2 separate regions of the Homo sapiens genome follow, and region 1 is linked to region 2. The links come from fine-mapping of genetic effects on gene expression. A gene starts in region 2. The other region holds a variant in brackets. All regions are shown on one strand. Distances are between the middles of the regions.

The links. PIP is the estimated chance that this variant, and not a neighbour inherited with it, causes the effect. A credible set is the group of variants that fine-mapping cannot tell apart.
Region 1: its variant is the best candidate, but not a certain one, in a credible set for the expression of ARHGAP26 in whole blood (TOPMed, PIP 0.65).

The regions. Positions count from the first base shown.
Region 1 is chr5:142,975,930-142,992,117 of GRCh38, forward strand. The region is part of intron 11 of ARHGAP26 (Rho GTPase activating protein 26); the gene reads left to right. LOC107986457 (a long non-coding RNA gene) reads left to right here. Exons shown (of 2, transcript XR_001742909.3): 2 at 1-2,854. Among named protein-coding and RNA genes, the nearest start is that of ARHGAP26-AS1, 120 kb to the left of the region's middle. RefSeq lists enhancers at 5,919-6,761, 6,762-7,603. The variant C/T (reference allele first, on the strand shown) is at 10,026.
Region 2 is chr5:142,761,169-142,777,356 of GRCh38, forward strand. It overlaps ARHGAP26 (Rho GTPase activating protein 26), which reads left to right and starts at 9,209. Exons shown (of 23, transcript NM_001135608.3): 1 at 9,209-9,747. The coding sequence starts at 9,594. RefSeq lists silencers at 9,013-9,422, 9,433-9,552 and an enhancer at 9,848-10,683.

The DNA of each region.
Region 1 (16,188 bases), 210 kb after region 2:
CTTTGTCTGGTGCTCAGCTGAATAAACCACCGTATGGAGGAAAAACTCTCCGTGGAACTTAGTGACAGGCAGTACAGTACAGTTTAAACAAAGCAAAGTATATTATGCCATATGCCCGGCTTAAGGGCTTTTCACGAGAAATTCTCACTCTATCTGGATTTTGCCTTAAATGTTAGCTGTAGAACCTAACACCCAAGTAAAGATATGGTATCATCATATTCTATTTCACTTCATTGGAAGCTCTTTCCCATGAAGGATTCTGCAGATTTTTAATACATGGTGATGCTTCCATAAAGTACTCCTTTAAAGCATTTGAAATAATCTGTTTGAAATAGGAGTATGAAACCATTTAGAAAGCACCTCTCTAAAGGAAATTAAGTTTATGAAGTGAATAAGTGAACTAATGTCATGCTAGCAGCCTGTGTAGAGGATCTACTGCTTCTGAGGGACAGGGGTTATCGGCTAAAGGAAGGACAGATCTCTTGATCCCTATTTGGCCCTTTTGCTAACCCTGAAAGTAGCCCAAGAGCAAGGCCTCTGAAATGCTAGGACATTTGACCCAATCATTATTACTACATTTTTGTATAGTCTCAATGGAGTCTTTAACATCCATACATAATAGATGTATCCATCCAATATAAATTCAATGAATAAAAGCGCACCTAAGTAAGACTGTGTATTGAAAAATGCAACGTTCATAAGATATCCTGTTGGGAAAAGATATTTTTTTACATGCCAAAAATACAAATTGAGACTTTACTAAACTAGATTGGAAAGACAGTTCTGTAGAGACATCTGGTTCCCTGTAGGTGGAATTTCAACTCTTAAAAGCGAGCATATCAACTTAAATAGTATGTGAACTAGAGAATTTAGATTTTGAACCTGCTGGTTCAAACTTTTCTGTGTTTGCCATCATCCTCAGGTAGGTTCTCCTCATCGTGTCAAAGATAGGCCCTTGGAGACCAGGAGAAGCTCCTGGTCTGTACCCTACCCATTTGCACGCAAGAGTACACCTCTGTGGTAATAGTTCCAGCAAAAGTCCCAGGGCAGGCTCTTTCATTGGCCTGGGCCAGGTTCTGTATTCATCCCTAAAGTGGTCACTGTGACTGAGGCCACTCCTGAGTCATATGCTAGCCCTGGGGTTAGCTCCGCCCAACCACACAGACAGAGCTGAGGGAAGGAGTACACTAAAGGAAAATTGAGAAGTTTTAGTTAGAAAGTGGGGATGGATTCTGGGCTGGCAGAAAGAACAGATGTTCCTCATAATGAGCAATTGCAAGGGCTCATACAAGACAAGTTTCAGAGGGGCTATTGATGGTGTGGGTAAAGAAAATTATATAAAAGTAACACCTCAACCCGCGGTTCTTCCTTGAGATTATGGTTCCTTTTATTTCACAATTTGTGGCATTGCTGGGCCAATAAAGAGAACTTCAAACAGATATTCCACATTCTTTTATTGGCACACAGAGGGCCATCAATTAACCTTATTAAAAAAAAAACAACAGTGGAAGAATCCTGTTTTGAAATCTTGATTTGCTTTAAAAGCACGTAGATGGTTGTTGACAGATTTTTGTTGGTCCTGGGGCTGCCACAGGTCAGCCAGGTGTTTTTTTCCCCCTGCTGGATACGGATCTTTGGACATTTGCCTCCAGTCTTTGCGTTGAACTCAGCAGTTTCCTGGGTGAGGAGGCAACCTTTGTGTGCTCAGCTTCTTCCAAAGCAGCTGTCTCTAGAAGTTGCTAGCCATCTCCTGGTTAAGAAAGAAGATGGAAGGTGGTAGGGAGAGGAAGCAAAAACATTTCACACTGCCTCCCCAAAGACAGATCTGTTATCCTGCCTTGACCACAAAAATTCACGGAGGAAGTCAGTGAGTCAGAGATGCGCCAGGGTGTAAGTTGTCAGCACAGTTCAGCGAGCTCTGGTATCTTGTGTTTCTCTGTTCGTACCACTACTGCTTTCCTTCCTGGCTACATTCACCAGCATGAAGAAACTGGAGCAGCACCTTGAGAGGTTTCATCAGCCCATGGCTGGGATGGTTGACAGATCACTTGCAAAGCCATGGGAAAAGGACCTGGTTCCTCTTGACTCCTCTGACTTATTTTCAGTGATCCGACATCTTGAAAATATTTTCCATTTCACTCCTAGGTTCTTGTAGGCCTTCCCACAATGAGCACATTCAGTCTTAAAAATTTTTTTTCTGCTTTAATTGGCGTGGGGTCGGATCGCTTCTCCTTGGGTCTTAACTGTATTCAGAGGGGCTTAGGGTTTGCCCAAGGCCTCAAAGGCCATGAGTGGTAGGTCATGGTCAAAGCATGTCCTCTTTCCTCAATAGCAGTGTTGGCCTAAATTCATTCTCCACTTCTTCGACTCTCTTTCTCTTGGGTGATGAGGAGGTATGAGATAATGTGTGAGAAATCCTTGGCCATCTTTGGAGTGAGGGGCTCTGTCTATGTACCTGTGTCCCCATCCAGAAAATACATAGCCAGGGTTGGCTGGTGCTGCTCTCATCATTGACATAACCAATCTGAAACTGGAAACCGAAGCACCAGTATAGAATGGTGGCCAAGAGGGTGGTCTGGTTTCAGACAACCTGGGTTGAATTTAGGTCCCATCCCTGACTACTTAGAATAATTTTATGCCCCAGATTCTTACCTGTTAAATGGGGATGATTTTAACACTGACTTCATAGAGTTCTCAGTGCATTTGAATGAGATAATCCATTGAAATCAATTGGCATGATACTTTCCACCTCTTGAACACCCTATAAATGTTATTATTATCTTAATCCTGGAGCTTTATGTCAAGAAAGGAGTTTGCCTTTTTTTTTTTTTTTTTTGTAAAAATTGAAAATTTTCAAGATAAAAAATTGGGGGAAAATATAAAGAAGCATAATGGATGATATAATGGCCAGTCATGTCTCACCAGTCAGCTTCATCAAATCTTGACACTTTACCACATTTATTTTTGAAAAAGGAATTAAAGCATTGCTGATTCATATCCTCTGATAAAGCAATGCTAGGGTAAAGGAAAAAGGAGGCGAAACTGTTTAAAACAAAAGTGACTTAAGACACCTAATGAAATGCAATGTGTGGACTTGGGTTGGGACTTGATTTAACCAAAGCAATTATACAAAGACCTTTTTGAGGCCATTATGGAAATCTCAATGTGGGCTGCCTATCAGATGATATCAAGGAATTATTAATTTTGCTAGGTTTGATAATACCATGGTGAAGATGAAAAAAACGTTATTAGCTTAAAGAAGATAGGAATTTGTAGGAGAGAAGTTTGTCTTTTTAATGTTTCTACTTTCTGCCTCCTTAATAAATAACAGTGTTACCTTGGCAGTTTCATCTGGGCGTTGTTTCTCTCCTCTCTATATCATCCCCCAAGTCTACTGAATTTTGAGGTCCCAGCTGGTGTCAGAGTTTTGCTCTGCAATTGCTTTTTTCTGGCTCAGTCTGTGTGTCCAGTTGGAGTGAGTCTGCTCAGAAAGTGGATTCTTCCACCTTGGGAACCCTGTGCATCCAGAGACTATGGGACATATTCCTTTTGACTCAATGTTTCACTTGGGATCTGGCAAACATAGACGTATCTCTTGAGGGCTAGGAGTGCCACTGATGGGGCCACATTATCAATCCCTGCAGAAGAAAACAGCAGGAACAGGCTGATGGCTTGTGAAATATTTTTCAAATTTCTTCCATACACAATCAAGGAAAAAGGAAAATGCAGAAGTGGAGGCCCCAGCTTCTGTTCTGGCTGTATTGTTTGCCTTCCAGGCAAAGAGAGTATTTGTGTGAGAATTAAGGGAAAGTGTCTCACTGTGAGCCCAATCCCAGAAGGTAATTCCATATGAAGTTTATTCTCTGCAGGCACTGTTGTGGGCGTGCCAGAGGGGAGGGCGGAGTATGGGAGGTGGGCAGACAGCACTTCCTGCCTACTATAAATCCCTGGCCAGCAGCTGGAAACTCCGGAGTGAGGCCTTCAGAGAGGAATGTCACCTGGAGTGGATAATGCTTGTTGTCACTTTCAAGCCAAATTTATAAATATGTGATCACCAACCAGATCAAGATGTAGAACATTTCCAGCATCCCAGAAGGCTCCCTAGTGCACTCAGTCAATACCTTCCTCGCTCCCCTTCTCCCTCCAGGTAACCACTCTTCTGACTTATATTGCCATTGATTAGTTTCCCTGTTCTTGGTGCTTCATGTAAATGGAAACATATACCATCTACTCTTTGTGTGTGGCTCCTTTTATGCAGTATAATACCTGTGAGACTCATCCATGTTTCCATGTAGCAGTAGTTTGTTCTGATTGTTGTAGAAAGCATTTCGTTGTACAGAACATATCACTAATTATTCATTCTTCGATTGAACAATGGATTGTTTGTAAATTTGAGCTATTGTGCATAAAGCCTCTAGGAACCTTTATTTTATTTTATTTTATTTTATTTTATTTTATTTTATTTTATTTTATTTTTGAGATGGAATCTTGCTTAGTTGCCCAGGCTGGAGTGCGGTGGTGCGATCTAGGCTCACTGCAACCTCCGTTTCCTGGGTTTAAGCAATTCTCCTACCTCAGCCTCCTGAGTGGCTGGGATTACAGGTGCCCACCACCACACCCAGCTGATTTTTGCATTTTTAGTAAAGATGGGGTTTCACCATGTTGGCCAGGCTGGTCTCGAACTCCTGACCTCAGGCAATCTGCCTGCCTTGGCCTCCCAAAGTGCTGGGATTACAGGTGTGAGCCACCTCACCCTGTCTGGAATGTTCTTCTACAGGTGTTTTGAGGCCATAAGTACTTATCTCTTGAGTATATTCCTGGGAGTGGGATTGTTGGATCATAAGGGACACAAATCTTTACCTTAGTAAATATTGCCACATAGTCTTGCAAAGAGGTTGTACCCATTTTCATACCCACCAGCAATGTGTGAGGGTTTCAATTGTTCCATGCCCTCACCTATGCTTGGAATTATCCATCTTTTTAGTTGTAACCATTCTAGGGCATGTGTGTATCGTAGTAGTAGTTGTCATTGTCGTTGTAGTGTCACACTTGGTGTTTATTTTCATTTCCTGGGTGAGTAATGATGTTTGGATATCTTTTGAGAAATACCAGTACCATCTTTTGGCCATGTTTTCATTGCAAATGTATCCTTTTTATAAAGGTGATTATGAACATCAAAAGTCATCATGGAAAGAAAAATGCAGATAGAGAGGCTGCATGTGGCAGCAGTATCAGCTGGTTAGTGATAAAGAACATAGGCTTTGCTGCCCGACAGCAGGAGTTCAAGTCCCAACCTTGCTACCCACTAGTATGGTATTAATTCACTTTCTAATCTTATTTCCTAAACCGTAAAATGGGGATAATAACAGTGTCTATCTCACCAGTGTGCTGGGAGGATTCAATGAGACATGCATCCTTAAAATACCTCTCTGTGAAGCAACTTGGGCCACATGAACAGAGCATTAACAACACACAAACACAAAATGTAGTCTAAATGCCCTGGTGGTCTTTCTTGAGCCATGCAGGCACCTTCCTCTGCCTCCCTATATTCAGAAGTGATAAGGCCATGAGCTACCCTCATGATTTGGTTTCCTAAATCTGTAAAGTCTGCTTTATTAGCTAGGGTGCAAGTTAGTATTTGGAACGTTTTTTGAAGCCATGAGTGTGCTCTTGATAGTCATTATTATTATAAGCAGCAGCTTGGCTCCTTTCCTGCAGAGCAGAATTATCTTCAATCAAATGACCTTTCTGTATACTTTCTACTTTAAAGGATTAATTGCGTCTTCCTTCCTGTCTCCCTCTTCACTTCTCCAGAACGCTCAGCCCAAAACCAAACTGGAGTTGCCTTTGTCCCTAAGTGGTGTCGTGGTACCACCACACCCAAAGCCTGGCTCAGAATGAATTCAGCACCCATTCCTTGCTTTTTAAACCTCAAAAGTTCCCGACTCAGTGAAAGGCTTCCATTTTGCTATCCTCTTCTCTGTCTGCATTTTACTCTGTAATTTATTGACATAGAAGAGGCCTCGTGCAGGCTTTCATTGCATTAGTCCACTTGGAAGTCTTTTCTCCAATCCATTTGACCTCAAGCTGCTTTTTTGCTGCTGCTGCATGTAAGCTAGACTGATCCAGCTCACCTTATGCTGCTTTTGAAGGCTGAAAAGCCCTGTGACCAAATGTTTAGCAGGCTGTTCAGACAGTGGACTGATGGTTTGATCTAAGTCCGTTTCCTGCCTTACACACACCTCCCCATCCCCCAAGGCAAAGGTGGAAAACCCAGCAAGTTACATAAGTTGTTGGAGCAGTCCAGATGGCTGGCTGCTAGCCCAGGCAAACTCGCTTTGGAGCACTTGGGGATGCCTGCACTGGCAATGAAACATGGGCTCATTTTTTAATGAGAACAATCATTTTGTTCAGCTGTATGAATCCCAGTAGTGGAGTGAGATCAGGGCTGTGATCCCCTAAACATGGCTGCTGGCTTCCCTCTGGGGCAGGACAGGGGGTGTCTTGTAGTGGGAGGGTGTCTTGTCCTACTGTTTGGACTTTACTAAACAGGAAGGAGCGGGCAGGGCTGCAGAACAGGAATTATACCATTGTACAGCCTGGCAGTCCTGTGGAATTGGCTGAATAGCGGAAGGAAGGAATCTGAAAAGGAAGGGAAGGATCTCACCACCCAGTGTGAGCCAATTCCAGCCTCGCTATTTTATCTGCCCAGTGACTGATCTTAGCCTTTTGTTGTATACCTTTCTTCTTGAGAGGTTTTGAAATGGTATGCATTCCTTAGCTTTGAGGCACCATGTGGCTGCAGTTAGTCAGACTAGCTCCAAATCACAAGCTTGGATTGTTGAACCTGTTTTTTCTGGAGTGGGAGGAAGATGGACCAGAAATTGATGTGAGGCCCTGGGATCTTCAGTCCAGGTGGCCATGGGTATGGCTTACAGGATGGTCATCTCTAGGTCTGACTTTCCCTGTGTGTTGTCCTGATGTGACCAGGAAGCAGCTGTCCAAGTTGCCTGTCCACCTCTGATAGCACATGCAGCCTTGCATCTGGGGTTGGTGGTTATTTCGTGCAGGTGACCTGAGAGCTGCCTGGGATTGCTGTGCTTGCCCAGCCCGCCACAAGGGGTTGCCCTTTGTTGGCTGGTGGTGTGGAGGAGGACAGGTCCCCTGACTGCCGGCTACTCCAGTGCATCTGAAATGGAGACACCTGTATGTCTGTGATCTCTGAGCCTTATCTTCCCTTGCTACCCCACGGTGAATTAGACCTAAAGATGCTATGCTGGTTCGTTGTTTTTTTTTGAGATGGAGTCTCACTCTGTCACCTGACTGGAGTACAGTGGCGCAATCTCTGCTCATTGCAACCTCCACCTCCCGGGTTCAAGCGACCCTCCTGCCTCAGCCTTGTGAGTATCTGGAACTACAGGCATGTGCCACCACACCTGGCTAATTTTGTATTACTAGTAGAGACAGGTTTACACCATGTTGGCCAGGCTGGTCTTGAACTCCTGACCTCAAGTGATCTGCCCTCCTCGGCCTCTCAAAGTGCTGGGATTACAGGCGTGAGCCTCCACGACCAGCCTGGTCCTTTGTTTCTATTGTTTTCAAAATGGTCTGAGAAATAGGAAAAATCCCAAAGTCTATAGAACATAGATATAAAGGTACAGAAAAGAGAATGCAGATTTTCACGCATTTTTACATCGAAAAAATAAACTATATTTTTTGACTGAAAGAATAACATAGAGTAACAAACAGTAGAAAATGTGGAAAATAACTAAAAAGATGAAGAGGAAAATGAATATCACTCATCTTAGAAAACAGTGGTTAATTTATGATATTTGTGTTTTCAACTCTTTTCTATCATTATGTGTTTATATATATCTAGACACACATCTATTCATATATAAACAAAACATGCATCCCTTTCCAGGTATTGTACTTTAAGTAGGATTTTCATTTAATTTTTTATATTTTCTCATGTCTGTCAGTTTAGCAGTGAGTTTTGCTGCAAACAATTGAAAATCCAACAAACAATGGCTTAAAGTAAGTTTTAGGCATTAATATATATGATAGGCCACATGGGACAAATAGGGTGGCTCTGTGAAGCCATTAAAGACCCAGCTTCATTGTGTCTTTTTACTCCTCCTTAGAGTGAGGAGGATCCTTTAGGATGTAGGCTTTTGTCTTCCTTGTAGGCTGCTGCACCTCCTGGCCTCACATCTGTGGTTCAGGCAGGGAGAAGGAAGGCAGGAAGAGGAAGGAGTGGTGTCTATGTCAGCAAAACAAAGGTTTGCCAGAAATCGCCTGTATATATCCACTTATGTCTCATTGACCAGAACTGTGTCATATTCCTAAGAGGAGTGTGTGTTTTCAGCTGGGTAAAATCTTGCTCCCACATATCAAGGGTCTGATTAAGGAAGAAAAGGAAACAGACATTGTACAGTCCATTAGCAGTAGCTGTCACACTTGTTTCTAAATACTATTCTACAACCAGAAGTGTTGAGTGACTTAGAAACTCCTTTGATGAAAGAAGAAATAATATTAAGAAAATTGTGAACACTTTCCTCAGAGAAGTATATAATTTGTAACATTTTGTATATAAGAAACAGATCTGTGCATTCATCTCTCAGTGGGCTGCTATACATGATTCTTTTCTTAGCGTAATGCATAGAAGTAGATTTGCTTGATGAACATATACAGTCACACACCATATAAAGATGTTTCAGTCAATGACAGACCACACATACCACTGTGGTCCCATAAGATTATAATGGAGCTAAAAAATTCCTATCTCTTAGTGCTGTTGTAGCCGTCATATTACTGCAACACATCATTCATGTGTTTGTGGTGATGCTGGTGTAAACAAACCTACCATGCTCTCAGTCATACAAAAGTAGAGCACATGCAATACTTGATAATAAATGACTGTGTTACTAGTTTATGTATTTACTACAGTCTGCTTTTTATTGTTATTTTAAAGTGTACCCCTTCTACTTATTAAAAAAAAAAGCGGTCAGACAGCCTTAAACAAGACCTTCAGGCGGTATTCCAGAAGAATGCATTGTTATCATAGACGACAGCTCTATGTGTGTTACTGCTCCTGAAGACCTTACAGTGGGACAAGATGTGGAGGTGGAAGACAGTGATGTGGATGATCCTGACCCTGTGTAGGCCTAGGCTAATGTTTGTGTTTGCGTCTTGGTTTTTTAACAAAAATAGCTTAAAAAGGAAAATAATAATAATAAATACAAAAAAAACTTGTTGAATAAGGAAAAAATACTTTTGTACAGCTGTACAATGTGTTTGTGTTTTAAGCTAAATGTTATTACAAGAATCAAAAAGTTAAAAAAAATTAAAAAGGTTGTAAAGTTACAGTAAACTAAGGTTAATTTATTATTGAAGAAGAACACTTTAAATAACTTTAGTGTAGCCTAAGTGTACAGTGTTTATAAAGTCTACAGTATTGTGCAGTAATATCTTAGGCCTTCATGTTCACCCACTAATCACTCATTGACTCTCCCAGAGCAACTTCCAGTCCTGTAAGCTCCATTCATGGTAAGCACTTTATACAGGAATACCACTTTTTATCTTTTTTTTTTTAATTTAAGTTCTAGGGTACATGTGCACAACGTGCAGGTTTGTTACATATGTATACATGTGCCATGTTGGTGTGCTGCACCCATTAACTTGTCATTTACATTAGGTATATCTCCTAATGCTATCCCTCCCCCCTCCCCCCCACCCTACAACAGGCCCTGGTGTGTGATGTTCCTCACCCTGTGTCCAAGTGTTCTCATTGTTCAATTCCCACCTATGAGTGAGAACATGCAGTGTTTGGTTTTCTGTCCTTGCGATAGTTTGCTGAGAATGATTGTTTCCAGCTTCATCCATGTCCCTACAAAGGACACCAACTCATCCTTTTTTATGGCTGCATAGTATTCCATGGTGTATATGTGCCACATTTTTTAAATCCAGTCTATCATTGATGGGCATTTGGGTTGGTTCCAAGTCTTTGTTATTGTGAATAGTGC[C/T]GCAATAAACATACGTGTGTATGTGTTTTTATAGCAGCATGATTTATAATTCCTTTGGTATATACCCAGTAATGGGATGGCTGGGTCAAATGGTATTTCTAGTTCTAGATCCTTGAGGAATTGCCACACTGTCTTCCACAATAGTTGAACTAGTTTACAGTCCCACCAACAGCGTAAAAGTGTTCCTATTTCTCCACATCCTCTGCAGCACCTGTTGTTTCCTGACTTTTTAATGATCGCCATTCTAACTGGTGTGAGATGGTATCTCATTGTGGTTTTGATTTGCATTTCTCTGATGGCCAGTGATGATGAGCATTTTTTCATGTGTCTGTTGGCTGCATAAATGTCTTCTTTTGAGAAGTGTCTGTTCATATTCTTTGCCCACTTTTTGATGGGGTTGTTTGATTTTTTTCTTGTAAATTTGTTTAAGTTCTTTGTAGATTCTGGATATTAGCCCTTTGTCAGATGGGTAGATTGTAAAAGTTCTCTCCCATTCTGTAGGTTGCCTGCTCACTCTTATGATAGTTCTCTTTTGCTGTGCAGAAGCTCTTTAATTAGATCCCATTTGTCAATTTTGGCTTTTGTTGCTATTGCTTTTGGTGTTTTAGTCATGAAATCCTTGCCCATGCCTATGTCCTGAATGGTATTGGCTAGGTTTTCTTCTAGGGTTTTTATGGATTTAGGTCCAACATTTAAGTCTTTAATCCATCTTGAATTAATGTTTGTATAAGGTGTAAGGAAGGGATCCAGTTTCAGCTTTCTATATATGGCTAGCCAGTTTTCCCAGCACCATTTATTAAATAGGGAATCCTTTCCCCATTGCTTGTTTTTCTCAGGTTTGTCAAAGATCAGATGGTTGTAGATGTGTGGTATTATTTCTGAGGGCTCTGTTCTGTTCAATTGGTCTGTATCTCTGTTTTGGTACCAGTACCATGCTGTTTGGTTACTGTAGCTTTGTGGTATAGTTTGAAATCAGGTAGTGTGATGCCTCAAGCTTTGTTCTTTTGGCTTAGGATTGTTTTGGCAATGCGGCTCTTTTTTGGTTCCATATGAACTTTAGGGTAGTTTTTTCCAATTCTGTGAAGAAAGTCATTGGTGGGGATGGCATTGAATCTGTAAATTACCTTGGGCGGTATGGCCATTTTCACGATATTGATTCTTCCTATCCATGAGCATAGAATGTTCTTCCATTTGTTTGTGTCCTCTTTTATTTCGTTGAGCAGTGGTTTGTAGTTCTCCTTGAAGAGGTCCTTCACGTCCCTTGTAAGTTGGATTCCTAGGTATTTTATTCTCTTTGAAGCAATTGTGAATGGGAGTTCACTCATGATTTGGCTCTCTGTTTGCCTGTTATTGGTGTATAGGAATGCTTGTGATTTTTGCACATTGATTTTGTATCCTGAGACTTTGCTGAAGTTGCTTATCAGCTTAAGGAGATTTTGGGCTGAGAGGATGGGGTTTTCTAAATATACAATCATGTCATCTGCAAACAGGGACAATTTGACTTCCTCTTTTCCTAATTCAATACCTTTTATTTCTTTCTCCTGCCTGATTGCCCTGGCCAGAACTTCCAACACTATGTTGAATAGGAGTGGTGAGAGAGGGCATCCCTGTCTTGTGCCAGTTTTCAAAGGGAATGCTTCCAGTTTTTGCCCATTCAGTATGATATTGGCTGTGGGTTTGTCATAAATAGCTCTTATTATTTTGAGATATGTCCCATCAATACCTAGTTTATTGAGAGTTTTTAGCATGAAGAGCTGTTGAATTTTGTCAAAGGCCTTTTCTGTATCTATTGAGATAATCATGTGGTTTTTGTCTTTGGTTCTGTTTATATGCTGGATTACATTTATTGATTTGTGTGTATTGAACCAGCCTTGCATCCCAGGGATGAAGCCCACTTGATCGTGGTAGATAAGCTTTTTGATGTGCTGCTGGATTCGGTTTGCCAGTATTTTATTGAGGATTTTAGCATTGATATTCATCAGGGATATTGGCCTAAAATACTTTTTTGTATGTGTCTCTGCCAGGCTTTGGTATCAGGATGATGCTGGCCTCATAAAATGAGTTAGGGAGGATTCCCTCTTTTTCTATTGATTGGAATGGTTTCAGAAGGAATGGTACCACCTCCTCTTTGTACCTCTGGTAGAATTTGGCTGTGAATCCGTCTGATCCTGGACGTTTTTTGGTTGGTAGGCTATTATTGCCTCAATTTCAGAGCCTGTTATTGGTCTATTCAGGGATTCAACTTCTTCCTGGTTTAGTCTTGGGAGGGTGTATGTGTCGTGGAATTTATCCATTTCTTCTAGATTTTCTAGTTTATTTGCATAGAGGTGTTTATAGTATTCTCTGATGGTAGTTTGTATTTCTGTGGGATTGGTGGTGATATCCCCTTTATCATTTTTTATTGTTTCTAGTTTATTCTTCTCTCTTTTCTTCTTTATTAGTCTTGCTAGTGGTCTATCAAGTTTTTTGATCTTTTCAAAAAACTAGCTGCTGGATTCATTGATTTTTTGAAGGGTTTTTTGTGTCTCTGTCTCCTCCAGTTCTGCTCTGATCTTAGTTATTTCTTGCCTTCTGCTAGCTTTTGAATGTGTTTGCTTTTGCTTCTCTAGTTCTTTTAATTATGATGTTAGGGTGTCAATTTTAGATCTTTCCTTCTTTCTCTTGTGGGCGTTTAGTGCTATAAGTTTCACTCTACACACAGCTTTAAATGTGTCCCAGAGATTCTGGTATGTTGTGTCTTTGTTCTCATTGGTTTCAAAGAACATCTTTATTTCTGCTTTCATTTCGTTATGTACCCAGTAGTCATTCAGGAGCAGGTTGTTCAGTTTCCCTGTAGTTGAGCGGTTTTGAGTGAGTTTCTTAATCCTGAGTTCTAGTTTGATTGCATTGTGGTCTGAGAGACAGTTTGTTATCATTTCTGTTCTTTTACATTTGCTGAGGAGTGCTTTACTTCCAACTATGTGGTTAATTTTGGAATAAGTGTCGTCTGGTGCTGAGAAGAATGTATATTCTGTTGATTTGGGGTGGAGAATTCTGTAAATGTCTTTTAGGTCTGCTTGGTGCAGAGCTGAGTTCAATTCCTGGATATCCTTTTTAACTTTCTGCCTCGTTGATCTGTCTAATGTTGACAGTGGTGTGTTAAATTCTCCCATTATTATTGTGTGGGAGTGTAAGTCTCTTTGTAGGTCTCTAAGGACTTGCTTTATGAATCTGGTTGCTCCTGTATTGGGTGCATATATATTTAGGATAATTAGCTCTTCTTGTTGAATTGATCCCTTTACCATTATGTAATGGCCTTCTTTGTCTCTTTTGATCTTTGTTGGTTTAAAGTCTGTTTTATCAGAGACTAGGATTGCAACTCCTGCTTTTTTTTGTTTTCCATTTGCTTGGTAGATCTTCCTCCATCCCTTTATTTTGAGCCTATGTGATGGGTCTCCTGAATACAGCACACTGATGGGTCTTGACTCTTTATCCAGTTTGCAAGTCTGTGTCTTTTAATTGGAGCATTTAGCCCATTTACATTTAAGGTTAATATTGTTATGCATGAATTTGATCCTATCATGATGATGTTAGCTGGTTATTTTGCTCGTTAGTTGATACAGTTTCTTCCTAGCATCAATGGTCTTTACAATTTGGCATGTTTTTGCAGTGGCTGGTATTGTTGCTTCCTTCAGGAGCTCTTGTAGGGCAGGCCTGGTGGTGACAAAATCTCTCAGCATTTGCTTGTCTGTAAAAGATTTTATTTCTCCTTCACTTATGAAGCTTAGTTTGGCTGGATATGAAATTCTGGGTTGAAAATTCTTTTCTTTAAGAATGTTGAATATTGGCCCCCACTCTTCTGACTTGTAGAGTTTCTGCCGAGAGATCCGCTGTTAGTCTGACGGGCTTCCCTTTGTGGATAACCCGACCTTTCTCTCTGGCTGCCCTTAGCATTTTTTCCTTCATTTCAGCTTTGGTGAATCTGACAATTATGTGTCTTGGAGTCGCTTTTCTCGAGCAGTATCTTTGTGGCTTTCTCTGTATTTCCTGAATTTGAATGTTGGCCTGCCTTTCTAGGTTGGGGAAGTTCTCCTGGATAATATCCTGCAGAGTGTTTTCCAGCTTGGTTCCATTCTCCCCATCACTTTCAGGTACACCAATCAGATGTAGATTTGGTCTTTTCACATAGTCCCACATTTCTTGGAGGATTTGTTCGTTTCTTTTTACTCTTTTTTCTCTAAACTTCTCTTCTCGCTTCATTTCATTCATTTGATCTTCAATCACTGATACCCTTTCTTCCACTTGATCAAATCGGCTACTGAAGCTTGTGATTGCGTCATGTAGTTCTTGTGCCGTGGTTTTCAGCTCCATCCGGTCATTTAAGGTCTTCTCTACACAGTTTATTCTAGTTAGCTATTTGTCTAATCTTTTTTCAAGGTTTTTAGCTTCTTTGTGATGGGTTCGAGCATCCTCCTTTAACTCAGAGAAGTTTATTCTTACCGATCATCTCAAGCCTTCTTCTCTCAACTTGTCAAAGTCATTCTCCGTCTAGCTTTGTTCCACTGCTGGTGAGGAGCTGCATTCCTTGGGAGGAGAAGAGATGCTCTGATTTTTAGAATTTTCAGCTTTTCTGCTCTGGTTTCTCCCCATCTTTGTGGTTTTATCTACTTTTGGTCTTTGATGATGGTGACGTACAGATGGGGTTTTGGTGTGGATGTCCTTTCTGTTTGTTAGTTTTCCTTCTAACAGTTAGGACTCTCAGCTGCAGGTCTGTTGGGGTTCGCTGGAGGTCCACTCCAGACCCTGTTTGCCTGAGTATCACCAGTGGAGGCTGCAGAACAGCAAATATTGCAGAACAGCAAATGTTGCTTCCTGATCCTTCCTCTGGAAGCTTCATCTCAGAGGGGCATCTGGCTGTATCAGTTGTCAGTCGGCCCCTACTGAGTGGTGTCTCCCAGTTAGGCTACTCGGGGGTCAGGGACCCACTTGAGGAGGCAGTCTGTCCATTCTCAGATCTCAAACTCCGTGTTGGGAGAACCACTACTCTCTTCAAAGCTGTCAGATAGGGATGTTTAAGTCTGCAGAAGTTTCTGCTGCCTTTTTTTCAGCTATTCCCTGCCCCCAGAGGTGGAGTCTACAAAGGCAGGCAGGCATCCTTGTGCTGCGGTGGGCTCCACCCAGTTCGAGCTTCCTGGCCGCTTTGTTTACCTACTCAAGCCTCAGCAAAGGTGGATGCCCCTCCCCCAGCCTTGCTGCCGCCTTGCAGTTCGATCTCAGACTGCTGTGCTAGTGGTGAGCAAGGCTCCGTGGGCGTGGGACCCTCTGAGCCATGTGCAGGATATAATCTCCTGGTGTGCCGTTTGCTAAGACCTTTGGAAAAGCGCAGTATTAGGGTGGGAGTGTCTCGATTTTCCAGGTACCATCTGTCACAGCTTCCCTTGGCCAGGAAAGGGAATTCCCTGTCCCCTTGCACTTCCCAGGTAAGGTGATGCCTTGCCCTGCTTAGGCTCACACTCCATGGGCTGCACCCACTGTCCAACAAGCCCCACTGAGATGAACCCACTACCTCAGCTGGAAATGCCGAAATCACCTGTCTTCTGCGTCACTCACACTGGGAGCTGTAGACTGGAGCTGTTCCTATTTGGCCATCTTGGAACCTCCCCCACTTTTTATCTTTATACCATATTTTTACTGTACGTTTTCTATGTTTAGATATGTTTAGATACAGAAATACTATTGTGTGTCAGTTGCCTACAGTATTCAGTATGGTAACATGCTGTATAGGTTTATCTCCTAGGAACAATAGGCTACACCATATAGCCTAGTTGTGTAGTAGGCTATACCATCTAGGTTTGTGTAAGTGCACTCTATGATGTTTGTAGGGCAACAAAATTGCCTAACAACGCATTTCTCAGAACATATCCCTGTCATTAAGTGAGGCATGACTGTATATTTATCTTTGAAGCTTGCTCTTCATGAAGACTGTGCCAATTTATACTTCCATGAGTTGCATATGGGAATATCCATTTCCCTGAGCCTACATCTATACTAGTTGCTACCAAAGTTTAAGAAAATTCTTAACTTTTTCAAAAAGTAAAACATATTATCATTGTTATAATTAGGACTTTTTTTTGTTTTTGAATATTCCCTATGGTTATTGAATTCTTTTTCTCCTTTTGCAATT
Region 2 (16,188 bases):
GGTTGCTTAGTATTGCTAGGCACTCTGCAAGTCACAGGGAACACAGCAAACTAGACACATGACTGCCTTGGGCTTAAGAAGAGGTTTCTAAACTTTTGAATAAAAAACAAAACAAACAACAAACAAAGTTGGAGGGACATAAAACTTCCAAATATTAATTTTGCCAGTGGGGTTTGTTTGTTTTTTTGTTTGAGATGGAGTCTTGCTCTGTCACCCAGGCTGGAGTGCAATGGCGCGATCTCGGCTCACTGCAACCTCTGCTTCCTGGGTTCGAGCAATTTTCTTGTCTCAGCTTCCAGAGTAGCTGGGATTACAGGCACCCGCCACCACGCTTGGCTAATTTTTTTGTATTTTTAGCAGAGACGGGTCTGGTCTCGAACTCCCGACCTCAGGTGATTCGCCCAGCTCCTGGGCGTGAGCCCCAGTGGGTATTTCTTAAAAACACAGCTACTATTTTCACTCATCATTTTATTTAAAAAAGGAGTATGTTAATACAAAAAAGTATATTAATGCCAAATTTGTAGGAAGAACATAATCTCAAAAAGCACTCTTTCAAATGGAATATATTAAGCTTCATGAAAAACTTTACATGGTCATTGTTTTTCTCATTTCATTATGGATCAAAGTAAACTTTCTAGACTGGCCTATATCATCAGACCAGCTTTGGGAAGCACAGGAGTAGTTCACATTGTTACTTTTCAGGCAAAACAATCTTTAAAAATGTTTAGTCTTTATAGTGATAGAATGCTTTAGTTTGAGAATTTAACTGCTAGTAGCTTTTTTTTTTTTTTTTTTTTTTGAGATGGAGTCTCGCTCTGTATCCCAAGCTGGAGTGCAGTGGCGCGATCTCGGCTCACTGCAACTTCAGCCTCCCGGGTTCACGCTATTCTCCTGCCTCAGTCTCCCAAGTAGCTGGGACTACAGGCGCCCACCACCACGCCCGGCTAATTTTTTGTATTTTTAGTAGAGATGGGGTTTTACCATGTTAGCCAGGATGGTCTCGATCTCCTGACCTCGTGATCCACCTGCTTCAGCCTCCCAAAGTGTTGGGATTACGGGTGTGAGCCACTGCGCCCGGCCAACAGCTACTAACTTTTTAAAGTCAAAAATAGAAATATAGTGATGGGAAATTCCAGAAAAGAAATACAAAGGAAAATGGGGAAGTAAAGAAATCTGCCAATATTCACTCTCCCCTAACAGACATTGTATCCCATTCGCCCTGTGTTTAGATGGAGGATAATCCATTTTAGCATTGATTTTTCATCCTGGCTTCTCCATAGATGAAAAGAAGATCAGAATACTTTATCTATTGAAATATTGCCCTCTTCACTGCCACTAAGCCACCTTCAACAAACACATGCACTCACTAAAAACCACAGCATCATCTCAAAACCGGAGCCATCAAAAGAAATGTGAATTCCCATGGATGAAAAGCCCATCCATCAATAAGGATTCGAAGTTGGGAAGTGATAGTTTCCCACTTGCTTTAGAAAGTTTGCTAATGCTTCATGACAGACTTCCTATTTTGCAATAACTAAAATGACAGAAGACTAGAAATTATCGCTTTATCTTATATGTCCTTATTCCTGCAGTCTATGTTAGTGTTTATGTCCTAAATGCATTTTTTTTTTTTTTTTTTTGAGGCGGAGTCTCACTCTGTCACCCAGGCTGGAGTGCAGTGGCGTGATTCCGGCTCATTGCAACCTCCGCCTCCCAAGTTCAAGCAATTCTCCTGCCTCAGCCTCCTGAGTAGCTGGGATTACAGGCATGCGCCACCACGCCCAGCTAATTTTGTATTTTTAATAGAGAGGGGATTTCACTATCTTAGCCAGGCTGATCTCAAACTCCCGATCTCAAGTAATCCACCTGCCTCAGCCTCCCAAAGTGCTGGGATTACAGGCGTGAGCCACCACACCCTCCTAAATGCATTTTATAGAACACTATGCATAGGATGTAATGTTTGGGGGAAAAACAGGATTCTGTGCTCAAAGAACTACGAGAAATACTTGGTTAAGCAAAATCTCAAGGATTACTTAACACAGGATTTCTCAGGATCTATAATATGCTATTGTCCATTTAAAGCATATACTCATGTATAAGATTCAGAGGCAAGAAAGAGAGCAAGGCACATAGGAATGCTTGAGTTTAGGTTACTGAAGTGAACTAATTTATTTGGTCATTTTAGCACCAACAATTATAGAAGAATAGGCCAATTATTTTTATTGACCCAGATAATTCTGGGTCTCTGTTGAAATTGTCTTTGATAGTTTTCTGGTTTCATATCAGCTTTTGAACAGTTTATTTTTATCAATAGAGTGTCCTTTTGCTTAAATACTTTTCCTCATTTAATACATATTCCTGCCCTGTAAATGCAGATATCATCTTTTAATGTTTAAGAAATCATCCTTAAAACTATGATTTTCTAATGTGAAAACTGCCTAAGAACCATGGATTAATGCAGCTGCTGAAAATCCAAGAGGAGGTGAAACAATAGGTTTTATAATTAATGCATTATATCAACTAGAGTAGTTTTGACTTTGAGTAACAGGAAACCCCATTAATGTAGCTTAAACAAATAGGTTGTTTTTTCCCTCTTTATGTGATGAGTAGTTGGGAGGTGGGTACTCTGGAGATGGGTATTGTGGCTCGTGGGTGTCACCAAGCTACCTGGCTCCCTCTGTTTTCCCATCCAGCCATCCTTAGCATGTGATATTCATCTTCATGACTGCAAGATGGCTGCTGCTGCTCCATGCATTGCATCCACATTCAAGACAAAAAGAATAGGGAAATGAAGTAAGCAGAAGGTGTGTGTCAGCAGTTGTCTCTTTATTAAAAAAACAACAAGAACAAAAAAACACACAAACCTTTCCAAAGCCCCAGCCAATACACTTCCAAGTGTATCTCAGTGGTCAGAAAAGTGGCACATGGCCACCACCAGCTGTGTGAAAACCTAAGAAATTAAATTCTTTAGTTGGGCACATTGGGGTTCTGCTAGAAACGTAACCTAAGTCTGGAGCTAGACTACCTTTTGAGAATCTCAGCTCTGCCACTCATTAGTTATATGATTTTAGGTGATTCATTTCACTTGCCTCCCCTGTAAAGGGAGATAAGATAATAATAGGGTTGCTAAGTATTAATTGAGTTAATATTTTTAAAGTGTTTAGAACTGTATCTGGTATACAGTAAATGTTATATAAGCACTTTCAATAAATGAGTAAGGTAAAGAGTGAATATTAGGTAGAAAAGTGGCAAGCATGAAATAAATCATGAAAACTGAAAATAAAAGTATTGCTAACATGTAAAACTTGTGTAGAACAAATGCTATGAGTTTCACTAATTTCTTGAGCCAAAGAATGTTAAATAGGTGCTGCTACCTCCCTTAAAGAACTATGAGCCAGTGGCTTTATGAGGATAGATTATTCTTTTTTCTTTAAGGAAACTGAGAATTTTATGTCTGTTTCAATCAACTGCTTCTACATAAATTGTAGGGCCTGTGATTTAAAGCTAAAGCAAATTAGAGGCTTGTATAATTATTGACATATTTGGGACATACCAGCAACAAGCCCTGGAAAACCACATACAGCTCATAAGGAGCGATAATGAAATCGCTCCTCTGTCATTCATATGTGATCTCATTCAAGTTTTAGGTGTTAGGCTATTATTATTTAACAATGTTTTTAGACATATAAAATGTATTTCTATAGATATTTTATATGGATGTAGTTATTTAAGCCAGATAGATTTGAATTCTAAGTCTAGCTCTATCAGTAACTACATTAGGCATCTTACTTCTCTAAGCTTTAGTTTCCTTACCTGTAAAATGGGGATGGTAGCAGCATCTAATTCTCAGGATTGTAGTAAACATTAAATAAAGAAATGTAATAGAGTGCTTAGCACAGATCCCGTTACATAGCAAAAGCTTAATAAATATCAGCATCACTGCCATCATCATTATTTTATTATTATTATTATTTTTGAGACAGAGTCTCATTTTGTTGCCCAGGCTGGAGTGCAGTGGTGCGATATTGGCTCACTGCAACCTCTGCCTCCCAGGTTCAAGCGATTCTCCTGCCTCAGCCTTCCGAGTAGCTGGGATTACAGACGCGTGCCACTACGCCCAGACAATTTTTTGTATTTTTAGTAGAGACGGGTTTTCACCATGTTAGCCAGGATAGTCTCGATCTCCTGACCTCGTGATCCACCCTCCTTGGCCTCCCACAGTGCTGGGATTACAAGCATGAGCCACCGCGCCAGGCCCATCATCATTATTTTTTAAAATCAACCTTTAATGAGGTTTACACACAATAAAACGCACCCATGAGTTTTGACAAATGCAATGCCTGTGTAACTACCACCCTAACTGAGATATAGAACATTTACATCAACCTTAAATTGTTATTTTAAAATAGGAAAACTGGTATCTTGTCTAGTAATAATAAAAAGGAGAAGTCACTGTGCAGCACAAAATATGGCATCAACCATAAAAAAGCATGAATAAGTGCTAACTAGAATTATGGGGCCATGAGAATGTGGCAGGAGGCGCATTCATTGTGAGGGAGTTGGGGACAGGTCAAATGCACTATACATTATTGCTTCTGCCTGTGCAGCAGTGATCCCCGTTTTCCCTGTTAAATGCGCTGTGCTTGTCCTTTAGTGGAACAACTTCACCCCAGTACTTTACGTTTTTGGAGTGGGGCTGTTTTATCCTTGACTCCAGTCTTGTCATTTCTATTGGAATTCTTAGAAAACTCTCTTCCTGCTAATATTGCTGGGCGTAATTTGGAGAAGCTGAGAGAGTCACTGAGACTGAAGCCACCACAGACAAAGGTCAGCTTGGGGATGGAGAGAGAAACCTGTGCTGTTATCATCTTCTAGATCCCCAGAGGCTGCCTTGAAGCTGGATCTACCCCTGAACTTCTCAGTTACATAAGGACCCATGAATGCTTCATCACGGATCAGATCTGTTCACAAGCTGGTGTTCAGGAACCAATGTGTGACTGGTCCATGCCCACTTCTGATTATATGGACTCAGAGACAATGTACATGGGAGTGCTTTGCCAGTGGTAAAGTTTCTACAAATGGGAGGTAATTGCATGGCAGGTGTAAAGTTATTTGGACCATTGAGGCCAGAAAAAATGTAGATTTAAAATATACTGATACTGAAAGCAGAACTGTTTGAACTAATTGCTAATTTTAAGGAATTCAGACATTCATCCAAAGGATTTAGGCCAAATGTTGCCTAAATTGTTTCTCTATTTCATATGAAAGTGATTTCTGCGGCTTAACTGTTCTCTTCTATTTATGTGCATGGCCATAACTGATGTTGTCACATGAGTCCTGTTTCTTTCTTATTAAACATGTGTCCGGCTCATTGATGTTCAGCACCTTTGAAGTTCCAATTGCTGTTCTAAGCTGGGGTTGCTGCATTGAATAATACAAAATCTCTACCCTTATGAGCAGATTTTCTGGGAAGAGAAAGACAACTGCACCCTCCATGCGCCAGTTTCTGTACTGCTGCATTCTTCTTTTTTTTTGAGACAGTCTCACTCTGTCACCCAGGCTGGAGTGCAGTGGTGCGATCTCGGCTCACTGCAACCTCTGCCTCCCAAGTTCAAGCGATTCTCCAGTCTCAGCCTCCCAAGTAGCTGGGACTACAGGCATTCACCACCACACCCGGCTAATTTTTTTACTTTTAGTAGAGACGGGGTTTCACCATGTTGGGCAGCCTGGTCTCGAACTCCTGACCTCAAGTAATCTGCCTGCCTAGGCCTCCCAAAGTGCTGGGATTACAGGCTTGGGCCACCACACCCAGCCTGTACTGCTGCATTCTGATTCTCTCTTTCTAGTAATACTGCTGAAAGTGTGGGAGGTTTTTTGTGGAAATTCCATATTAAATTTATGAGAAATTTACACATTATTCACATATTTACATATTTGTCTGTGAATGGGCATATTAAGTTATATGTTTGTGCCACATAGAATTATTAATATTATCTCGGTAAGCTGGTTCAAGTTACAACTCTGGGCCTCAATTTCTTATCTGAAAAAATGGGAACTATCATAGTACCAGTCTCACCCTGTAGGGATTATATGCATGTAAATAATTTTTTTGTTTGTTTTTTGAGACAGAGTCTCTCTCCGTCACCCAGGCTGGAGTGCAGTGGCACGACCTCAGCTCACTGCAAACTCTGCCTCCTGGGCTCAAGCAATTCTTGTGTCTCAGCTTCCTGAGTAGCTGGGATTAAAGGCGTGTGCCACTATGCCAGCTATAAATGCATGTAAATAATTTACCATAGTGCCTGGCATAAACTGAGAGCTTAACAAATGATAGCTGATATATTATTGTTGTTATTATTAATACATATATATTATTTTACACACATTTGCCTACTATTCCTCAATGGGATAAAACAAATAATTGTGGATCACATTTTATTTCATTCATTTAGCATGTATTGAATGTTACCATTTATGCTGGGCCCACTGTGGCAGATTATGTTTTTCAGAAATAGCTACTATAATATCTCCCATTCTTGTCATTCCCCCATCAAGAGGTACAGTCTAATCTCCTTCCTTTGAAGCTGGGTGGGCTTATGAGTTGCTTGTAGCCAATGAAGGTGGTAGAAGTATGTGGCTTCCAAGTGATTCAGGGCAGGCAAGGCCCAAAATTGCAGCTTAGCCCAGGAGGCTTCTTGGCTTTGCCCAGAAAAGAATTCAAGGGCAAGCCAGTGGTAAGAGAAAGCAACTTTCATTGAATCAGTGCTGCTCCTTGTGGAACAGGGCTATCCCATAGGGAGTGTGCTCAGGATGGGCAGTGTACAGGGCTGTTGGCAGCTGTACCTATACCTACCTTTAATTATATGCTAATTAAGAGGTGGGTTATTTAGAACTTTCTGGAAAGGAGGCAGGGAGTTTCCAGAACCATATAAGGTAACTTCCAGGCCATTGCCATGGCCTGTTGCAATGGCATTTGTAAACTGTCATGGCAATGGTGGGAGTGTCTCTATGCTAATGAGCAGTGAGGGCAACTAAAAGTGTCTTTTTTCCTTGCCTGCTGGTTTCTGCTGGCTGCTTCACTGAATCCCGTTTGGAATGAATCCTGGTTTGATCAGTGGGGTTGTGATTGGAAAACAAGTCCTGCAGGCCTCTCACCTCACAAGGCTAGGTCATAAAAGGTGATGCACCTTTCTCCTTGTGAGCTGTATATGTTCACACTGGAGCCTTAAGGCTGCCATACTGGGAGGAAGCCTAAACTGGGCCACAGAGAAAGGCCATATGGAGAAGCCCTGAGTCTACCTGAAAAGTGGGATGCCCAGCTAACCATCCACTCCTCCAGCTCCTGTCACCATCCAACTGCAATCACATGAGAGACCTCAAGCCTTTGGCTTCCCTAAATTTCTAACCCACAGAGATTGTGAGAGAAAATAAAATGATTGCTGTTGTCTTAAACCATTAACTTTTGGTATCATTTATTCTGTATTAATAGATAACCAGAACACCTACCTTTAGGTGCTCAAGATAAAGCATTAAACAGATTTACTTTCATAGGGTTTCCATTCTAGATCTTTCTCATCTTTGGCAAGTGAAGAACAATTGTTTTTGGGTTGTAATTATCTATCAGATAGCTGTCTGGACCTGCTATCAAGTCTAAATTTGTAGATACACCTATCAAAGAGATCACATTCACTTATTTATACATTTACTTATTTATTTTACAATTTTTTGTAGAGATGGGGGGGGTCTCGCTGTGTTGCCCAAGATGGTCTTGAACTCTTGACCCCAAGCAATCCTCTCACCTGGCCTCCAAAAGTTATGGATTACAGGTGTGAGCCACCATGCTCCATTTATGAATTTAATACATTAATTGCTTTCTTAATATAGATGGGACACCTCTGACCCCTCCTGAGTGAAAAATCCATGTTCCCAAGCACCCAGGCCTTCTATCCTATCACAAGGCATGGTTATCGCTTGTTTGCTTCCATCTCACCTAATACCACCAGCAGCTAAATTCATTCTGTTATTCATCTTTGTATTCTTACCATCTAGGCTAGTGCCTGCACATAGCAGACCTATTTAAAAAACAAACCAACCCAAACAAACATGAAGCCCCCACGTAGCTGAAGGAGGGCTGCTGGTTCCTAGACATAGAGATAATTTATTCAAGGACAGTCCCTATCCTCCAGGAGTTAACAATTCAGCACTAGACACCCTGTGGGACCCAGCCTGACAAGTGCAACGAGTGAGATGCCAGAATTGAGTCCTGCGGTCGAACAGAGGGACTACAGGGCAACGCACTGGGCGTGGGAGGTGGAGATGGCTCTGGGAAAGGATCCATTCATTTATTCTACATTTATCAATCACCGTAGCACACACAGCACATAGTAAGTGCTCAATATCTGTTATTAAATGCCAGCCACTGTGCTAGGTGCCAGGATGCAACAGCGGACAAGAAAATTGCAGGGGCACTTGCCCTCGTGGGGCTTACCGTGTAGCGAAGGATGACAGGCAGTAGACTGTCATCTTATTATGTAAAATTGTGCTAGATGCAGAGCAGGAAAATAACAGGCGGCTGAAATTCTAGTAATGATGTGAGCTCCTTCGGCTGAGGGGAACCGTGGGCGGGTTCTGAGCAGGAGTGGCCGTGAGGGGGACGGACCGTAGGGGGCGGGAAGACTGCAGGCAAGAGCTGGTAATTTTAAGATGCAAATAACATTTTTCTGCCTGACTGGAAGAGGAGCGTTTGGTCGCTCGGGATTCTCCCGGAGCAGGGGGCTGTATTTTGAGTGTAAAATCGGTTGCCCCGCAGTGCAGGGCAGGCGGTGGTGAACTGCAGCCCTAGTCCCCAGGTTTTTCATGCTTGGCACATCGAGGCTCTTCGGCCCCCAGGACCAGCAGACTCGCCATGCGTGGCTCGGATTCGGGCTGGAGCAGGCGGGCAAGGTAGCGGGGGCGGGTGCACAGCAACGCTCACCCCTAGGTTTCGGGGTCTGCAACGCTGGGAGGGCAAGAGGAGGCGGAGTTTGCGCTGCGGACCTAGGCGTTGGCGAGGGCCACGCCCCCAGCCGCAGACCCTGCCTCCAGGCCCCTTTGATTGGATCAAGACCGCGGAAGGGCCGGGCGTCCTCGGGCGGCCTGAGGGTCGGGCAGGGGAGGGTGCGCTGATTGGCCCGGCGGGGATTAAGTCATCGCTAGCAGGTTCGAGCGGCCCAGACACCGGCGGGGCGGCCGAGGCTGCTGTGAGAGGGCGCTCGAGGCTGCCGAGAGCTAGCTAGCGAAGGAGGCGGGGAGGCGGCGTCTGCACTCGCTCGCCCGCTCGCTCGCTTCCCGGCGCCGCTGCGGGTCCGCGCTGCGTTTCCTGCTCGCGATCCGCTCCGTTGCCCGCGCCCGGAACAGCAGCACCTCGGCCGGGTCCGAGCTCGGTTCGGGAGTCTTGCGCGCCGGCGGACACCGCGCGCGGAGTGAGCCAGCGCCACACCTGTGGAGCCGGCGGCCGTCGGGGGAGCCGGCCGGGGTCCCGCCGCGTGAGTGCTCTGGGCGGCGGGCGGCCCGGGCCCCGGCGGAGGCGCGCCCCCCGGCTGGGCGCCGCGCGCACCATGGGGCTCCCAGCGCTCGAGTTCAGCGACTGCTGCCTCGATAGTCCGCACTTCCGAGAGACGCTCAAGTCGCACGAAGCAGAGCTGGACAAGACCAACAAATTCATCAAGGAGCTCATCAAGGACGGGAAGTCACTCATAAGCGCGCTCAAGAGTGAGTGTCCCGAGCCCCTCGGGGACGCGGCTCCGGGGCGGGAGGAACTGGGAGGTGGCGCTTAGCCCGGGTTGCCCGCGCGTCTGCCGGGTTTCTGCTCCCGGTACACTGGGGGACGGGTGTCGACGCCTCCGAGGCAGGAAGGATACGTAAAGCGGGCGAACCAGCAACCATCAGATGAAGAGAGAGACCCGTCGCTCCGCCTTTTGCGTTCAGGGATGGTCGGGAGGTGACCCAGCGCGGGTGGTGCTCTGGGGCAGCGCGGGTGGGCGTGGGCGTGCGCGGCACGCAGGTGTCCCAGCAGTGGGGCCAGAGTGCCGAGCGCGCCGCAGCCAGCGGGCAGATCCCATCGTGTCCACAGCTCCAGCTCCCTTAGGGGCAGAGTTGCTCAGCCTTGAGTGCCCAACCGTGAGAATGGAGCGTGCCCTGCCGAGGGGGCGCTGCCTCCCCTTGGGAAAAGGTGGGTTGTGACTGCTTCGCTCCCTGTACGCAGCTCCAGCCTAGTCAGGCCGCCGGGTTCCCTGGGTGGAATGCTTGGTTAGCTTGCGATTCCTTGGAGTATTGGCAGCCAGTAATCTCTAAATCTGGAATCAGTACGTGCGCAGGTTCTGATTCTTGTGTTTAGCAGAAGGTGATAGGGGTGGGAGTAGAGAATCAGAGTGTTCCTTTACTCTAAACTGTGGGCGAGGGTTTAAAAATAGAATGTACATATCCCAACTCTCTCCCTCTCCTGCTCCCAAGCTCTCCTTTTTACCTCTTCCGTTATCCTTGTAAAGGTCTGAGAAGGAATATCCATAATTCTCAGAAAGAAGTTCAAACGTATTTCAAAGATTCTTGGACCTTTTGTAAAACCATTTTTGCGTTTTTTCCTTTTGGTACAAGGGGAGAGATGCAATTTTGCATTCTGCTTCACTTTTGCAGAGCCAGAGAGTTTCTTTTTCTGGCCAAATAAGCGTGCTCTAGGGATGAGTGCTTTGGATTGTGAGAACGTTTTTGGTGCCTTTTCAGTCTCCCCATTTAAAAATAGCTCAGTCCATCTTTTAGTTTTAAGAATCAGGAACCACATGAAGGCAGATAGTGGAATTGTCTCTGACTCTGTTACTGTATCTGTTTCTGTGATGGATTTCTTAGTAGGTGATACCTTTCAGCTAAGAAATCTTGCCTTAGCAGAGTAGAGTCGTAGCTGTGGGAATTGTTCCCAGGCCTCTTTAAAGGGCACTTACAAAAGTCAGGTGCCTGAGATGTCATTTTGTCAGCTTGTTGCTTCTAAAAATGAAGAGAGAGACAATGGAATGCCAGGGCAGCCCAAAGTGCCAATCTTTTGGGATGAAATGAACACAGGACTGTGATGTGATGAGGCTTCTTAGAGGCAGATTCTTAGGCTGTGCCTTACCTGAAACATATGAACAGACCCTTCCTTTGTCAATAATCAAGGCCATTCTTGGTTTAGGGGATGGGGGTCCCTGGTTTGGAGTAAGTTAGGGGCCCACTTACAGGTTGGGCCCAGGAATTTTGATTGAACCTCAGGCTGGCTTTAGTGAGTTCTCTGCTTCACTCAGCAAACTTTTGGTGTGATTGTGGTGTACTGGGTACTGCACTGGGCACTAAGGGTGTAGGAGTGAATATTTTGCTGCTCCTGTGCTTACAGAGGTGTACTTCATTCCAGGCACTGCTTCACATATAATTATCTCATGTGCTTAGATTCATTCTGCAAATGAGAAAACAGAGACTGGGGGAAGCATTACCTCTGAGTCACACAGCTCTAGCAGCAGGACCAGAGCTTTTGAATCCACCTGGTTTGAGCCAGAGATGGAGTCCCTGCCAGTGCAGAGCTCTTGACTTCTGCCCCATCTCACTTGCCCGGAATGGAACCTCTTGCACCAAGCCCTAGAATTTGGACTTGTGTTTTCTATTTTGGCATTGAATCTGAGGAGGGTGCGTTTGGGTGACTGGCAGTTTTCCTACCACTAGTTTTTGGGGGCAAGAATTCTTTGGTAGGAAGAAACATTGCAGTGATAGAGTTGAAGTGTTATTTAAGCTGTCTAATGGAATGGATCAGCCCTGTAATCTGGAGGAAAGACTGATGGGGATCTCGGTGTTCTGTTCTCTCTACGTCCAGCTCTGCTAATGTATTCTACCACTACTAACTACTACTTGATCAGGTCAGGTGACCTCTAAAAATAGAGGGTGGAGTCAACCATTGTGTCCTGGATTTCAGACATTCCGATATCATGAGATGCTTGCTGCGTGGTATACTACTATATTAATGTTTGTGTATTATTTTTCTTCAGTCATGTTTATTATATCTATAAACAGAAGTGTTTTCCCAGTACAACTTAAACATAAATACATAATTATATAAACACTGGGTTTAGATAATCTATGTTCTCTTATAGCTCTAAACTTTTGTGGCTTTATTTTATAGCCATATTTTATTTTATTTTACAGTTATTTTATAACTAGTATTTCTAGCTCTTTGGATTTAACTTGGTTTTGAGTGTTAATCATAGGCAATAAAACTGTCCTCTAGGGATTGCCAAAGTTCAGGTAGATCATTGTTACTATTACTTCCACTTTATGAATGAGATGCTGGCAATGGAGATGCAAATTCTTTATAGATCTAGATCCCGTAAAGGAGAAACATGCAGCAGGTGCTTGATTAAGTGAAAACATTGCCAGTTGTTTTTTAGACTCCGAGCCCTGGGTAGCAAAGACCAGCTAAGATTTTGTATTATCCTCTGAAGTTTTGGAGTTCTTTCTCCATCACGGGCTTTGAAGGCTAGAGGGACAGATGAGAGTGGCTGAATATGTCTTGGCTTTGTAAAGCAGCAGAGTTTCTTTTGGGGGTAGCACTGAATGATTATCAGTGATTGTCTTTTCACTGAGTAATATAGCATTGAACAGAGAGGCCAAAAACCTGTTCTTGGTGTGATTCAGTAAGGTAAGTAAGTGGTTCATCCTCTTTGCCTTTCAAAGCAAGAGTAAAAAGGTCAGCACTGAGTTACATGCTTTAAAGCCTGTCACCCTTTTGTACTTGTTAGAATTAAACGTGGGCATTTTGCAATACATAAGCGCTTCTTGAATGGCATAAACTCTCAAAGGATGTTCGATGCCAACCTGCTTTGTTTAGGAGTAATTATGTTACTCAGAAAATCCTAATGGAACAAATGGATGTGGAGTTGGGTAGCAAAATATTTTCCCCAGATCCTTTGCTTTGCTTCAGTACCTTGTGAATAAAGAAAATCAAAGGCATTTCCTAATTATTTGTAAATGGTAGTAATTGACATTTTGAATATTACTCATACAAACATAAATGACAGCAAATTAAATTCAAACAAATTTTTATAGTTTTTATATAACATTGGCTGAAAAACATCCCTTCATTTTACTCCATTCTGTGTTCTTAGTTGGACTGAAAAAATTTGCATCCAGTCTGTAGTTCTCAATTCATTGACTTTGGCTTAAACCCTCCTTCCCTGCACTTAAATCATTAATGGACTTTTTTTTTTTTTTAAGAGCAGTTTTAGATTCACAGAAAAATTGAGTGGGAAGTGTAGAAAGTTCCCACATAGCGCCTCATACCTGTCCCTTCCAGTTGCCCCTATTTCTAACATCCTGCATTAGCATAGTACAGTTGTTATAGTTGATGAACCAATATCAATATAACATTATTAACTAAAGTCCATAATTTACATTAGGGCTCACTCTTTGTGTTGTACATTCTGTGGATTTTGACAAATGTATAATGACATATAAACACCATCATAGTAACATACAGAATACTTTCACTACCCTAAAAATCCTATGTGCTCCACCTATTCATCCCTCCCTCCCCACTAACCCCGGGCAACCACTAATCTTTTTACTGTCTCTCTAGTTTTACCTTTTCCAGAATGTCATGTAGTTGGAATTAAACAGTATGTGGCCTTTGCAGATTGGCTTTTTTTCACTTAGCAATGTGTACTGAAGGTTCTTTCATGTCCTCTTATGGCTGGGTAGCTCATTTCTTTTTATTGCTGAATAATATTCTGTTATCTAGATGTGCCATAGTTTATCCTTTCATCTATTGAAGGACATTTTGGTCGTTTCCAAGTTTTATCAATTATGAATAGAGCCGATATAAACATTTGCGTGCAGTTTATATGTGGAAATAAGTTTTTAACTCATTTGGGTAAATACCAAGGAGTATAATTGTTAGATTATATAGTAATGTATATATATATAAAATAAAATAGTACGTGTAGTTTTTTTTAAGAACTGTCAAACCGGCTTTCAAACTGATTATACTGTTTTGCATTCTCACCAGCAATGAATGAGAGTTCCTGTTGCTCTACATTCTGCTCAGCACTTGGTTTTGTCTGTGTTTTGGATTTTGACCATCCTACTAGGTGTGTAGTGGTATCTCATTTTAAAAAATTTAGCTATTTCCTTATGACATATGATGTTTGGCATCTTTTCATATTGCTTTCTTGCCATCTGCATATCTTCTTTGGTGAGGGGTCTTCAGATCTTTTGCCCATTTTTATTTGGGTTATTTCTCTTTGTCGAGGTTTGTTTGTTGTAAAATATACATAACACAACGGTTACCACTTTAGTCATTTTTAAGTATATAATGCAGTGGTTTTCAGCATGTTCACCATGTTGTATAATTACTATCTCTTTCGAGAACATTTTCATAATCTCAAACTGGAACTCTGTTCCCATTAAACAATAACTCCCCACTTTCCCCTCCCCCAACCCTAGTAACCTCTATTCTGCTGTCTGTATGAATTTACCTATTCTGTGTACTTCTTATGAGTGGAATTATACAATATTTGTCATAAATATCTGGCTTATTTCACTTAGCAAAATATTTTCAAGGTTCATCCATGTTAATAGCATGTGTTAGGATTTCATTTCTCTTCATGGCTAAATATCTTATTGTTGAGTTTTAATTATCAACAGCTGTCATTAGGAAAGACTATTCTTTCTCTTTTAAAGTCATAAAAATGTATTTTTTTCTTTCCATTTCGTTTCCCTTCAGTATGATCACTAACACTTGGAATTGACATACCAATTGATCATGGTTGTCTCTCACAAGAACACTATATTTATATTTATTCCTTTCAAAGCAGTTACTTGCTTCAGGTCAGCATGTTTTTGGGGGAATTTTTCATAAAAGGTTAATTGAATTATAATTTACATTCCATAAAATTCACCTTTTAAGATTTTATTTTTTATTGTTTTTATTATTTGTGGAGATGGGGGTCTCACTTTGTTGTTGCCCAGGCTGGTCTCGAACTCCTGGTCTCAGGTGATCCTCCCGTCTTGGCCTCCCAAAGTGCTGCGATTACAGGCATGAACCACGGCTCCTAGCCACTCACTTTTCTTAAGTGTATAATTCAGTGGTTTGTAGTTACAGAGTTATGCAACCATCATCCTAGTCCTGTTTTAGAACATTTTTAGCACCCCGAAAAGCTTTCTCATGCTCATTTGCAGGCACTGCATTTTTGCCTGAAGCCTCATACAACCACTGATCTACTACTTTCTGTCTCTATAGATTTCTCTTCCCTGAAAAATTAAGCTAAATGGAATCATATAATATGTAGTCTTATGCATCTGGCTTCTTTCACTAAGCATGCTGTGTTTGAGGCTCATCGTGTTGTAGCATGTATCAGTAGTTTGTTCCTTTTTATTGCTAGAAAATATTCCATTTTGTAAACCATAAGTTGTTTATCCATTCACCAGCTGATGATTTGGGTCATTTCCAGTTTTTTGCTCTTATGAATAATGCTGCTATGAATGTTTGCATACGTGTCTTCATGTGTATATATGTTTTCACTTCTAATTTCATTTTTTACCTAGGAGTAGAATTTTGCTGGGTTGTATGGTAAATTTATGTTTAAGTTTAATTTAAACTTGTGTTTATTTAAAAAAACCTACCATACTGTTTTCCATAACAGAAGCACCGTTTCACATTCCCACCAACAATGTATGAGGATTCTGATTTCTCCACATCCTCGCCAATACTTGTTGTTGTCTTTCTTTTTGATTGTAGCCACTCTAGTGGGTGTGAAGTGGTATCTCGTTGTGGTTTTAATTTGCATTATCCTGGTGACCAATGAGGATGAGCACCTTTTCATGTGTTTGTTGGCCATTGGTGCGTCATCTTTGCTGAAATGTCTATTCAGATCTTTTTTTTCCTTTACTTTGTCTCATAAAACTTTTGATGATTAAGTGAACAGCACTTAGTATATTTTCTCCATTTGCCCTCTTTTGGGGACTATTTGTTTCCATGTGCTTCAACCTTAGATGTATTTAACTGATCAGTTTCAGGATCTCAGGAATTAGGAAGTGGTTCTTATGAGGCTGTGGTTCAGATTTCTGCTCTTGTTAGGCCAGTGGGCATCGCTCTGGGCAGATGCCACACAGGCTGGACTTCCTAATTCTGGCCTGCATAAG